Regions from separate parts of the Homo sapiens genome. Here all the other regions are linked to region 3. The links come from fine-mapping of genetic effects on gene expression. A gene starts in region 3. Each other region holds a variant in brackets. All regions are shown on one strand. Distances are between the middles of the regions.

Evidence for each region. PIP is the estimated chance that this variant, and not a neighbour inherited with it, causes the effect. A credible set is the group of variants that fine-mapping cannot tell apart.
Region 1: its variant is the best candidate, but not a certain one, in a credible set for the expression of EXPH5 in lung (TOPMed, PIP 0.72).
Region 2: its variant is the best candidate, but not a certain one, in a credible set for the expression of EXPH5 in aorta (GTEx, PIP 0.55).

The regions. Positions count from the first base shown.
Region 1 is chr11:108,508,221-108,512,461 of GRCh38, reverse strand. EXPH5 (exophilin 5) reads left to right here. Exons shown (of 6, transcript NM_015065.3): 6 at 1-4,241. The coding sequence ends at 2,925. The region is part of intron 1 of LOC112267909 (a long non-coding RNA gene); the gene reads right to left. Among named protein-coding and RNA genes, the nearest start is that of POGLUT3, 12 kb to the right of the region's middle. The variant A/G (reference allele first, on the strand shown) is at 1,545.
Region 2 is chr11:108,561,260-108,565,500 of GRCh38, reverse strand. The region is part of intron 1 of EXPH5 (exophilin 5); the gene reads left to right. Among named protein-coding and RNA genes, the nearest start is that of EXPH5, 30 kb to the left of the region's middle. RefSeq lists an enhancer at 2,228-2,337. The variant C/AC (reference allele first, on the strand shown) is at 2,440.
Region 3 is chr11:108,591,124-108,595,364 of GRCh38, reverse strand. EXPH5 (exophilin 5) reads left to right here and starts at 1,597. Exons shown (of 6, transcript NM_015065.3): 1 at 1,597-1,947. The coding sequence starts at 1,829. RefSeq lists silencers at 1,411-1,710, 1,731-1,780, 2,061-2,120.

The DNA.
Region 1 (4,241 bases), 83 kb after region 3:
GACACAATTTATTGTACCTTGCCAAGAAAATCAAGCAGTTTTCTCATACATGGCAGGCAGTCAGGAAGTAAAATAATGGCTGCTTCATTGAGGAATGGGCCACCTCCCTTCCAAATCAAAAATAATGTGGAAGATGCAATGGGGAACTATATGTTAAACAAATTTAGTCCCAGTTCTCCTGAGTCAGCGAATGAATGTTCCAAAGTCCTTTCAGACTCAGCCCTGGAAGCACCTGAAGCCACAGAGAGAATGACAAATGTAAAAAGCAGTGGATCTACTTCCGTTAGAAAAGGACCACTTCCATTCCTCATCAACAGGGCTATGTCATGTCCCTCAGGGGAGCCACATGCCTCAACTGGAAGAGAAGGAAGAAAAAAGCCATTGACCTCAGGCATGGATGCTTCTGAGCTAACACCAAGGGCTTGGGAGAGAATCATTAGCCCTGTGGAAAGTGACTCATCTGTTAGAGATTGTTCTTTAACCAAAAGACAACACCAAAAGGAAAACTTCCAAGAATACACTGAGAAAGAGGGTAAAATGGCTGCCTCCAGGAGAAGTGTATTTGCTCTTTCAAATGAAGACCCTTTACCTTTTTGCTCAGACTTGTCAGGAAAAGAACGTGGGAAAACATTACATAAAGTTAAGACGACTAGTACGTTTTCTGTTTCTGGTGATGAAGATAATGTAAAATGTCTGGAGGTGGTCTCAATATATTACACTCTACCGAGGAAACCCAGCAAAAAATTCTGTAACCTCCTTCAACAGTATACACAAAATACTAATTTACTTATAGAATCACCTCAAGTGGAGACTGAAACATTTCCTAACGCTTTAGAAAAAGACAAACAGAATTATTCTACACGAGAGCAGTCAGGAACACCTTCATGTGAAAATCTAAAGATGTCCGTCAACTCTGATCAGACGCTCACCACTGAAAATATGACTGCCTTCCGATTATCAAATAGGGGGCCCCTAGCTCCTACATTACAGGAAATGGCTTCTGTTGAGGCAGCTGTTTCTCTTCCTGAAGAGGAATCTAAAGCTAGAGAGATTTTTTCAGATAATTTAGCTAAAACACCTCTAGGTGATTCAGAAAACAAGAAGGAAAGAGGCAAAAAGTTGCAAAGTGAAACCCTGCATACTTCATTGATGCTTCAGAGAAAAAATGTATCCGAAGAAAAATCTGAAAATTGTCAACAATCCATTAATTCAAGTAACAGTGGTCCCTCTAGTCTTCCAGCTCTTTCAGAAGTTAATATTGGAAATTCCCAAACTAGAAGAAGTTCTTGGGAGTGTACAGGGAGTGGTAGAGCCATTCCATTTACTGGAAGTGGCAAGTGTCCCCAGAAAGATCACACATCCACAGCTGTAGGTGATGGCTCCAGTGGATCACAGCCTAGGGAAGGCAGAGGGGACATTGGAACCAACTGCCAAAAAATGACTAATAAAACACTTTCTCACTCAGAGAGTCAAGTCTTTGCCCTTACTCCAGCATTGCATAAACTACAGCTTGGTGAGGAGACTCAGTCAGATGAACCAAACTT[A/G]GAGAGTCTGCAGTCTGAACCAAGAGAATTACCTCAAAGAAGTCAGGAGGCAAATATGACAGAGAGCAGGAAGGCTGAAGATGAAATGCAGAAGTCAGCTTGGGATCAACCTTCACTTCCTGAAGGAAACAAAAATAAAACCAACTTGGATGACCTAGTAAAGGGGGAAAATAGATCTTCAGTTAAACACAGATTGGCAGCCATGTCTAAAGCCAGCAGAAAATTCCCAGCTAAAGATGTAAGCCCCAGAAGACATGTAGCTACTATCTTCCCCCAAAGTGGAAGCAGATCTGGCTTTGACCATTTATCTCTTGGCACAGTGGAGTGCAACCCACTGTTCCCTGAGCCTACTCCAAAATCTGCAGAGTCCATTGGCGAAAGCAGGTTGAGTGAGAACGGAAAGCATGTGAAGAAATCCGAGAACCTTCTCCCCATTACTGTACTACCCAACAGAGAACCTTCTACACACGTCAGCAACCAGAAGTCTAACAGCATTTCACAACGACATCAGAATGAGTTTAAAAACGTCTCAGAATCACCATCAAAGCATGAGAATTCTAAAGACGTCACAGCAGCTCAGAATTTAGTAAGAGAATCAGGAGCCCCATCACCCATCACATTCACCAGCCTCAGGGAAGCAGAATTCTCTGACAATCAGAGGAGGCTGAGCCCTCCTTTTCCACTGGAGCCTGCACAGAAATCTAGAGTAAGCAGTCCACTGGCCAGTTTTCTGCAGCAACAAAGGAGTGCTTCATCTCTGGAGTGGGAACCTGAGCCACACCTCTATCGTTCAAAGAGTTTAAAAAGCATTAATGTTCATGGCGATCTACTACGAAAAAGCCATCCTCCAAAAGTCAGGGAGCGCCATTTTTCTGAAAGCACTTCTATTGACAATGCCCTGAGTCGACTGACCCTTGGGAATGAATTCTCTGTCAACAATGGGTACAGTCGAAGATTCAGATCTTTTTCTGAACTCCCCTCCTGTGATGGAAATGAAAGTTGGGCTTATCGCAGCGGGACAAAAACAGGTCCCAGGTCTGCAATATCTATATACAGACCTATCGACTATGGGATCTTTGGGAAAGAACAACAGTTAGCTTTCTTAGAAAATGTAAAGAGGTCACTTACACAAGGAAGATTATGGAAACCAAGTTTTCTTAAGAACCCTGGCTTCCTAAAAGATGATTTGAGGAACCCTCCCAACCCCTCAGAGTCATTAAGCTCAAATTCTCCCAGTAGTCAGGTGCCAGAAGATGGCTTATCTCCAAGTGAACCGCTTAATATCTATGAGGATGACCCAGTGGACTCAGATTGTGACACAGACACAACCACAGATGATGAATACTACCTGGATGAAAATGACAAAGAGTCAGAACTGTGAGGCTTTTTCAATAAAATGCTTTACTTTTTTCACCAAAAGCTTATAATGGAACTAAGGTGTACATGTGCATGTGCATGGAAGGATAAAAGATCTAGTCTGGGCAGTGTCTGCTCTGAAATGTCCCACATCTCCTTTTTTTTCCTCCACACCCTATATAGACACTTCCTGAATGCTAGAACAATGAATTCTTGTTTTGAGAGAGTCTCTGCTATTTTCTATCTCTGTAAATGTTCTTAGCCTGCCTTTCCACCACTCCCACTTAATCCCTGATTCACTGTCTGATTTGGGCTTTCTGCTTTACTTCCCTCCTAACATTTTTCATCTTTAATTGTGATTTACAACCCTAATATCCCAGGCACATACAAAACTTATGAATTACCCAGCACAACTGTGAAACTCTGTATTGCTTCTTCCGGTCCACACCCTATACTCATGACATTAAATAAAAGGTAGGGATGATAACAGTGGGGTAAATATTATCATCCTGTTTGACTCATGAACATTTAGGAAGTTTAAGGTGGTGATCTTCTCTTTCAAACAAAGATAAAGGAATTTATTTTTTAACCTGAGAAACTGATTGCAAAAAGGAAAAAAAAAAGATAAAGGAATTTTGTAAGTACTTCCTGTTATATCCGTAGTGGAGCCTGGGAGGCACATGGTCAAAGCACATGTTGAGGTTATAGATTAGGACCTGAATCCCTAGTAAGCCAATAGAAGGTTAGCAGTCCTAGAAATTCCTCTGAAACCGTGGGGGACTGGCTGGATTATTAAGGGCTTTTAGTCAAGCCAAGGACTTAGGCCAGGCAACCTGACCATACAGAAAGTTGCCTGGTCACAGAATTTCTGCTTATGAAGAGAACATAGCTGAGGAGCAGAGGTAGGAAGTAGGTATCCCTTCATGGGACCGACTTACCTTTACTGCAGTTCTCTCAGCAACTGGCTTTTCCCATTTCCTCAGAACTATCCATTTTCACATTTTCTTTTTTTTGTTTTTGTTTTTTGTTTGGTTTTGTTTTGTTTTTGTTTTTTGGAGACGGAGTTTTGCTCTGTCACCCAGGCTGGAGTGCAGTGGCATGATCTGGGCTCACTGCAACCTCCGCCTCCCGGGTTCAAGCGATTCTCCTGCCTCAGCCTCCAGAGTAGCTGGGATCACAGGCGCACCCAGGCGCACGCTGCCACGCCCAGCTAATATTTTTGTATTTTAGTAGAGACGGGGTTTCACCGTGTTGCCCAGGCTGGTCTCGAACTCCTGAGCTCAGGCAATCCGCCCACTTCAGCCTCCCAGAGTGCTAGGATTACAGGCATGAGCTACCATG
Region 2 (4,241 bases), 30 kb after region 3:
TCGTGCAACTTGAAGAAAGGCAAGAGCAATAGGAAGCAAACAACCAAGAAGCTTAGGTGTGTTGAAGACAACATTCAGCACTGATCTGTGGTGTGCTGTAGTGGCCAATCTGAGTCCCCAGTTAGTGTGAAATAGACTAGCCTGTGAATTACACTCTGAAGCAAATGCCAAGAGTTGCCAATTTTGCCATTTGCTTGGCTCTTTACCTTGGATTTCATAGAACCAATATTTTAAATGGTACCTGGGCTAAAATAATCAGCAAAGGTATTGAGCAGATAAGTTATCAAAAACTACAGGCCAGGCATGGTGGCTCATGCTTGTAATCCCGGCACTTTGGGAGGTGGAGGTGGGCGGATCACCTGAGGTCAGGAGTTTGACACCAGCCTGGCCAACATGATGAAACCCCATCTCTACTAAAAATACAAAAATTAGCCAGGCGTGGTGGTGGGTGCCTGTGATCCCAGCTACTCGGGAGGCCGAGGCAGGAGAATAGCTTCAACCCGGGAGGCGGAGGTTGCAGTGAGCTGAGATCTCACCACTGCACTCCAGCCTGAGTGAGACAGAGTGAGACTCCATCTTAAAAAAAAAAAAAAAAAAGCTACACATATCCAATAAACATAATAAATAATGTTCAACCTCTCTAGTAATCAAAGAAATACAAAGAAAAAAAAAGAAAACTTTTTTTGGCTTATCATATTAGCAAAGATCAAAAAGAATAGACATAACTAACATTGGCAAGCACATGGGGAAATGGACCGTCATACAAGGGAAAATTTGATACAACCTTTTTCCAGGGTAATTTGGTGTGATATAGTTCATAAGTCATTAAAACATGTTCATCCTTTGGCCTGGCAATTCCACATCAAGGAAATTGATTCTAAGGAATTAATCAGAGATGGGCACAATGCTAGTTTTGAACTGGGTTTATTTCAACATTATGACTCTAAAAAATTAGAAATAACTCCAACGAGAGGGGAGTAGGATCATATGTTACAGTACAGAGATGCAGTGGTGGAATACTGACATAGCATAGCATTCTTAATGTAATGCTAAGTGGGAAACATAGACTACACAAAGCATGCATAGGGTAAGAGCATTTTTTGAAAATGCAGGCATACATAACTGACATGTGGAGCAAGTAGGAATCATGGAATATAACAAGAAAACATCTTTAGTTTTGTCTCTTACTATCCTTTTATTTCTTTTTTATTTTTTTAGACCGTCTTGTTCTGTCACCCAGGCTGGAGTGTAGTGGTGCGATCTCAGCTCACTGCAACCTCTGCCTCCTGGGTTCAAGCGATTCTCCTGCCTCAGCCTCCTGAATAACTGGGGTTACAGATGCCCACCACCATGCCCAGCTAATTTATTTTTTTTTGTATTTTTAGTAGAGACAGGGTTTCACCATGTTGGCCAGGCTGACCTCGAACTCCTGACCTCAAGTGATCCGTCCGCCTCAGCCTCCCAAAGTTCTAGGATTACAGGCATGAGCCACCGTGTGCAGCCGTCTCCTACTATCCCTTTAAATGCCACTGGATACAAACAAAGGCAGTCCCTTGACTTTTCTGGTCACTTTAAGACACAAACACAGTCTCAATTCAGAGATAATTAGAACATACGGTCCTAGATTAATCCCAGCTTTATTCAGAGGAGCAGCCCCTCACACAGCCACCGCTTGCTGCAGAGCGACGCCTAGGACAGTGAAGAGGATTTGATCCTTTTCCCTTTCCCCATCAACCTCTGCCTCTCCACCCCTTCAGTGGTGGTTTTTTACTGTTCCAGGGTTGAACCGGACGGTGGCTGGGAGGCAGGTTTAAGTTTGGATGGAAGGCACATGCAGAAAAGCTGTTGCTTGACTAGAATGGTTGTGAGGTGGCATCACTCTCTCTGGGTAGGGCAGATGTTTAAATCTGCCTCTTCTCTTGTGTGCTCGTCTGGGGTTTGCTGAGATGGCCCGTGGCCCGGCACTGTTCCCCAGCAGCTCTTTCCATGCAGATAATGTGCTCTCCCCTGCTCTGTGCTAGGAATCCAGGGGTTCACCCACAACCTCTTTCTACTCAGGTTTATTCACCCCTGGAGCTGACTCTAGCAGGCATGAACTAAGAGAACCCCATGCCTCCTCAGCCTCTCCTGGGGCCCACATCTTCTCCACGGGACACAGTCATACTGTGGTTGCTTGAGAAACCCTGGAAATGAGGGCTGATTGACAGCTGAGCTATGCACTTCATTCTGCAGTCAAAGCAACTGGCAGGCCCCAGTTTCTCCAGCTCAAATTTCTCAGGCAGGAGGCAGATACCAGTCTACCTTTCCTCCAAACCACAAGGGACAAAATTAAGCTCTTCCAGTCGTACCAGTTAAGCTCCCTGGCTCTAGAGAAAGCCTCCTCACAGATCCTCCCTCTGTCTTCACTCTTCCAAGTCAATGCATGTAAGGGGACTTAAA[C/AC]CCTAACTAGAGAGATTTGGCTTTTGTTTGTTTTTAAAAATCCCACAAAGCAAGTTCTCCTGATTGGTCTTCTCACAACTCCCTTAGATGTCTTGAATCTCTTGCTTTCATGCTTTAGCTAAAACTGAGTCAGAGTCCTAGTCCTGTGACTACTGCTTTAAAACACATGAATGAACATATGTACACACACAGCAGTATCTCTGACAGTGGGAGTTATGAGTGATTTCTTTTATTCAAGTTTTTGTTTGTTTGTTTGTTTTAAATGGAGACAGGATCTCACCATGTTGCCCAGGCTGGCCTTGAACTCCTGGGCTCACTTGATCCTCCTGCCTCGGCCTCCCAAAGTGTTGGGATTACAGGTGTGAGCCACCATGCCCGGCCCCTTCAAGTTTTTTCTTTAATTTCCAAGTCTTTTGCATTGAATGTAATTTTACTTTCTTTCTTTCTTTTTTTGAAACAGCGTCTTGCTCTGCTGCCAAGTCTGGAGTGCAGTGGTGCGATCTCAGCTCACTGCAACCTCTCCCTCCCAGATTCAAGCAATTCTTCCACCTCAGCCTCTCTAGTAGCTGGGACTACAGGTATGCACCAGCATACCCAGCTAATTTTTGTATTCTTTTTTTTTGTTGTTGTTTAGTAGAGAACGGGTTTCTCCATGTTGGCTAGGCTGGTCTCAAACTCCTGACCTCAAGTGATCCACCACCTCGACCTCCCAAAGTGCTGCGATTATAGGCGTGAGCCACCCAGCCCGGCCTGATGTAATTTTACTTTCACAATTACAAAAAAAAAAAAAAAAAAACACAGAAAAAATTGTATAATGGCAAAGCAAAGTCAGTTTTATTGACATTTGAAATTTCCTGTCCCAATCAATGCTGGAGAATTCCTCTGTGAACAAATTCCTACATGCTGCTTATGGCTGGATGTTTTCATTATGTTCTTTCAGGTGACAAGGAACATAGAGCAGTTTCCTCAAGGGATGGGTGGCACTTTATTGTCAGGATCTAATGGAGAAGTAAGGAAACACAGGAAACGGCCTCAACCCTGCACGGCCAGTCCTCAGGAACCGGAATGTTGATCAGAATACTGCAGCATTCTGGTGCCAATCAATCAACCAGGCTAGTAACCACAGGCTTGTGGTCCAGCTTCTCTGTTCTGCTTCTCCCTACTCACTTCCATTGCCAGGGCTGATTTTCTTCTTGCAAGTTTCCTCTCTGCCCCATAGCTTCCTCCTGTTCAAGACTCTGGTGCCTGATGGCTTCTCTTCATGGTACTGCTCAATACCTTCTCGCTATGTGTCTCTTAGCCATGTCACTTTAGTTTGTCTTACTTGGCATTATGATTTTAAGACATGCCAAGAGGAAAGACGTTATTAAGTTGTTAATCACTCTCCAAAATAGAACAAATAGAATTCACTGGGCAGCATTCTTGCTCATGTTTAGCTTTTGGGTGATTAGGGTAGGAATGCAAAAAATGTTGGATCCCACGAGGCAAAGCACAGGAACTACCCATGACCACTTTACTATGAGTAGGACAGACTCCCAACACTTCATGGGATACCTGTTTGCTAGAAAAGTGGTCCACATCTTTCAGACAGATCTACCACCATGCTTAATTCATTACTTCTGTGGCTTGATCGAGTGCTATTTTTGGGTGTTGGCAAAGAGAATAGAGATGCCAGAATGATTTAAAACAAAACAAAACAAAACAAAACAAGATGGAGGGAATCAGATATCCAGATTTCTTTTTCTATGCCAATAATGTCAAAGGGAATCAAAGCTAAATAGTTGATGTCTTTTAAAATCTAA
Region 3 (4,241 bases):
ACCTAAATACCGTATCCTCTCTCCATCCACTCAGTTGGCACTAACTTTTCTGTGTGCTCATGGAATTTTCTTTATTCCTCTATTATGTTCTTTTTTACATAGTCATCTTTCTATTTGTGTATCTCTCCCACTGGATTACAAACTTTCTAAAGACAAGGACTGTGTTGTTCACAGTGTGTGATGCCTTCATGTAATAGGCACCAGGATACGTTGGTTGAAATCAGTTCACTGATATACTGGAAACAGTGTAAAATCCCACCAGTGACCATATTGAAAAGTCCCATGTGTATGCTGAATAAATGAACACACTAGAAAAACTGGACACCATATACAAGACATACTCCCAAAACAGGATCATTAATACAGACACTATTTATAAAGGAGTTCTGTATTGTGTACACCATGGGTGAACAAAATTGGTTCCTGGTTCACACAAATAACAGACACCCACAGAAAGTTATCTGAATGGCTAGCTGCCTAGGCATGTTTTAAATAATGATGATCAAATGGGGTAGCCCAGAGAACAAAACACAAGTGGCAATTTTTGATATCATGTTCTTGTACAGATACAAAATTTTAATTGGGTTTATGTGCCATGAAAAGAAATGATATATGTAGAAGTACATTTTATATGTTAGTAATCATCACCACCATCTTCAAAATGACCAAATTAAGGCTATGGGGCAGGAAAGTCAATCTGACAGAGTTATTTTTGGGTAGGAAGTGAAGCCAAGATAAAAACATGTTTTCTGTAAAAGCCTTGATAATTAAAAAAAAAGTATATATGTGAATATCTTTATAAGTTTCTATTATTCTTCATTGCATTGTGGAACAATTGACTTTCTAGGAAAGCTATTTCTGTGGCTTCATAGGATTACCATTTGCTTTCACCAGAGGATTAGGTATTTTTAAATGGCATGTGTATTACTTCTCTGAGTTTATTAAGATGATAATAAAATCTTACAGAAAACTTCTAACAGGTGTTTTCTACAGTCCTTTGCTTCTGGGCTGTCTTCTCCTAAAATACCATAAACGGTTTTGTTTGTTTGTTTGTTTGTTTCTAAAGTCTAAGAATGACTTTTGTGGGACAGTGGAGGTGGGGGTGTCTGTGGGATGAGAGGCTTGGCAAATAATTCGTTTCCAAGGATACACTAATTTCCGCCCTTCAGCCAGGTTCATCCACAGTCAGTAGTGTAATTGAGTTTAGTTCTTCCTGGTCTTTCAGATAAGTAACCCTTTTGCCAGTTACAAACCCTACTTGCAATTCTATTTTCTATGGGCTCTTAATTATTGAAAGGGAGGATTAGTCATGAATCTCCTTTTTCACTCCTTTACTAATCAAGCTCAAGTTCTGCGAGCAAACAGCAACAGCAAAAGCAAATACTTTGGCGCCAACACTTAGCCTTGCCTCACTTAAGAGGCAGAATTATGTAGGCTTGTTTGCTTAACAACTCAGATAGGGGGCGGGGAGGGTGACCGGAGGGGACGAGGGAGGGGACGAGGGACGGGACGAGACGAGGGAGGGGACGAGGGAGGGGACAAGGGAGGGCCCGCCCCCTTGGAACGGGATTGGTTCCCTCTCTCCCTTTAGCCGTTCACTTTGCATCTCGGTTGGACAGGTTGAGAGAAACATGTCATTAAGGTATTGTCAATATGAGCCCTTCAGGTGTGGGCGTTCCCTAGGTTTGTGGTTTTAGACTTTCAAAGGGGCGGACTTATTATTGGCTGTGGGATCAAGTTCGTGAAACTGGTCTTGTACAGGTTGAAAAATGCCTTCCTAACAGGAGGCGCCAAGGAGCTTAAGTGTAACTCACACACAGTAAAGAAAATGACGAAAGTTCCTCCGGCGTTTGATTTCAGTTTCTTAAATGACGAAGAGGCCAGGAAGATCCTTCAGGTGCTGGAAAGGAATGAGGAGTTACAGAGGGCCGAGAAGGACAGGATCAGGTACAGAGCAAATTCATTTCTTTTGTCCTGGGCCTGGGTCCCGCAGGGGCCGGGGATCCGCGGGGAAGGCGCTGAGCTCGCGCGGGGCACCTGCCCGGGGGTGCTCCGAGCGGCTGCTGCGGAGGCTGCGGGTCGGGAAGAGAAAACTGCGCGGAGTTGCTCCCTGAAGGACTTTGGGATGCTTAGTTGGTACCCTCTCCACCCACCACATACCAGACGGGCTCGGCTGCGGGTCTGGGGTCGGGCAGGGTGGGGGGGTCCGTGCGCTGCGGGGGCCGCGCAGTGACGCTGTGCTGTGCCGGGTGTCTGCTGGGCCATCGCGGGGCGTGGGCCGTTTCAGGCAATGAAATGCGGCGGGGGCGCGATCTGGAGAGGAATCCTGGCTGCTGCTCACTCCGCGGCCCGCGCGCACCCACGTGCTCGCACGGGTCCGACAGAGCTTCCACCCTCGCCTAACGCAGTTTTCCCTCGGCACCAGAGGCGAATCTCCCCACCCAATGCGGGCAGTCAGCGAAGCACGGGAGAGCCGGCACCTCACGGGAGGCGAAAGGTCCCCACCCCAAGGGTAGGAGCTCGAGGAATTTGTCAAATAGAGGCTTATGTGGGCGAATGGGACTTGGACACACGGGGTTGGCTGGAATGGGTGGGTCTTCTTGTGCGTGGTGCTGTGGGGAGCGAGTTTCTGAGAAATTTCATCCTTGACCTTACTATACACTGTTGTAGGTGAGGGATTAGTTACTAAAGAATGAAATCCAGAGACACAGATAATTACCCAGGATGTACATTAACCAGTTTTTCTGCTGGGGAAGTGTGGGATAAGTGCTGGAATGAATTAAAGGGACTCTCTCGCCAATATTGGAATATATCCATCTAAGTCCTTCTCTAGATAACTGTGGAAGGGAATTCAGGACATCACTCTCAGACCACACTGTGTGCCATTGATTGGAATTTAGCAAGTCATTTTGTTTTATGATCAACTGCTTGCTAATGCGAGTTCCAGGTTCCCAATTCTTTCTAGAATTGCCTGTCCCCCACCGCCGACAAAAGAAACCCTCCAGGGACCCTCTTCAAATTGGAAAATCTAGTTGGTCTTTGTAGAAAGAATTAGAATACACTAAGCCCAATGCCCTGACTTCACCCTTCTCCCCTAAACATGACTCTTTGAGGGATGAAGGAATATTTGAGGTTGGGGAATATGGATTTCATACCATCTGCCTTGAGAAAAAGTGGCTTTATCATTCCCCTCCCCTGAACAGTGTAGAAAGTGTGCCTTCAGGAGAACAGTATGCCACACCCACACACACCCACGTGCATAATGTACCTACACATATGCACATGCACCGCACAAGGCACACCCAACTTTCAGAAGAAGAATTTCAGAACTGCACGGAATTTCAGTGCATATTCCAAAGGCACTAAGAAACTGCGGTTATTCTCAGTGTGTGTTATTGGAAATGTTTCTTGTCTCTGAAGAGGATGGGGCTTCTTAAGTGATCCATTGTATATTTGGGGAAATTGAGGGGAGAGTTAGAAAATAACAAGGAGAGAAGCTTTCATTTAAGATGTTATCTTGACTTTTTATTTTTGACCTGATGCTTGCTTGCCTTATTGTGTTTTCTCTATTGCAACTCACGATGCCCACTGCAGTTGACTTTAGAGGGAACTGGATCTCCACATAGATCTACACAAAGCACGTGTATCTACACAAAGCCATTGGGCTGGGCATTAGAAGGAAGGTCAAAACACATTTTCTAATTTCATGGCACTCATATTCTAATGGAAGCATCAACAGAAAAAGCCATAATGCTAAGACAAAATCGATACTGTATTATACTAATTATTAAAAGTATTTAATTGCCCAAACAATTTGAAAAATATCACCATTAAAATACAAAAATCATTTAAGGAAAGTAGATGTGTGGACCAAATACCCAAGGCAATGATTTCTAGTACTGTCTTTTCCTTTGATTAATTCCCCACTTCCACTATCAAATACCCATGTCTGGCTTGCAGGCTCCATGGGATTGTTCTGCTTACCCACTTCAGGCTCACATGTATTAATTTCAGTATCAGATATTGGCATGCAGAAAGGGCCTGAGACAACATGGCAACTTGGCTGCCTCTTCTGCTCATTTTCTTGATATGTGTGATCATATTTTCCAAATCAAAAATCAGGACACATGACTTATAACTCAAGAGTATAATTTCATTCTGTTCTGGCTTGGCATATGTGAACAACAACAAAAAAGAGATGCTTCAACAGGCCTGTCTGAGAGACTCAGGGAAGCCTTTTT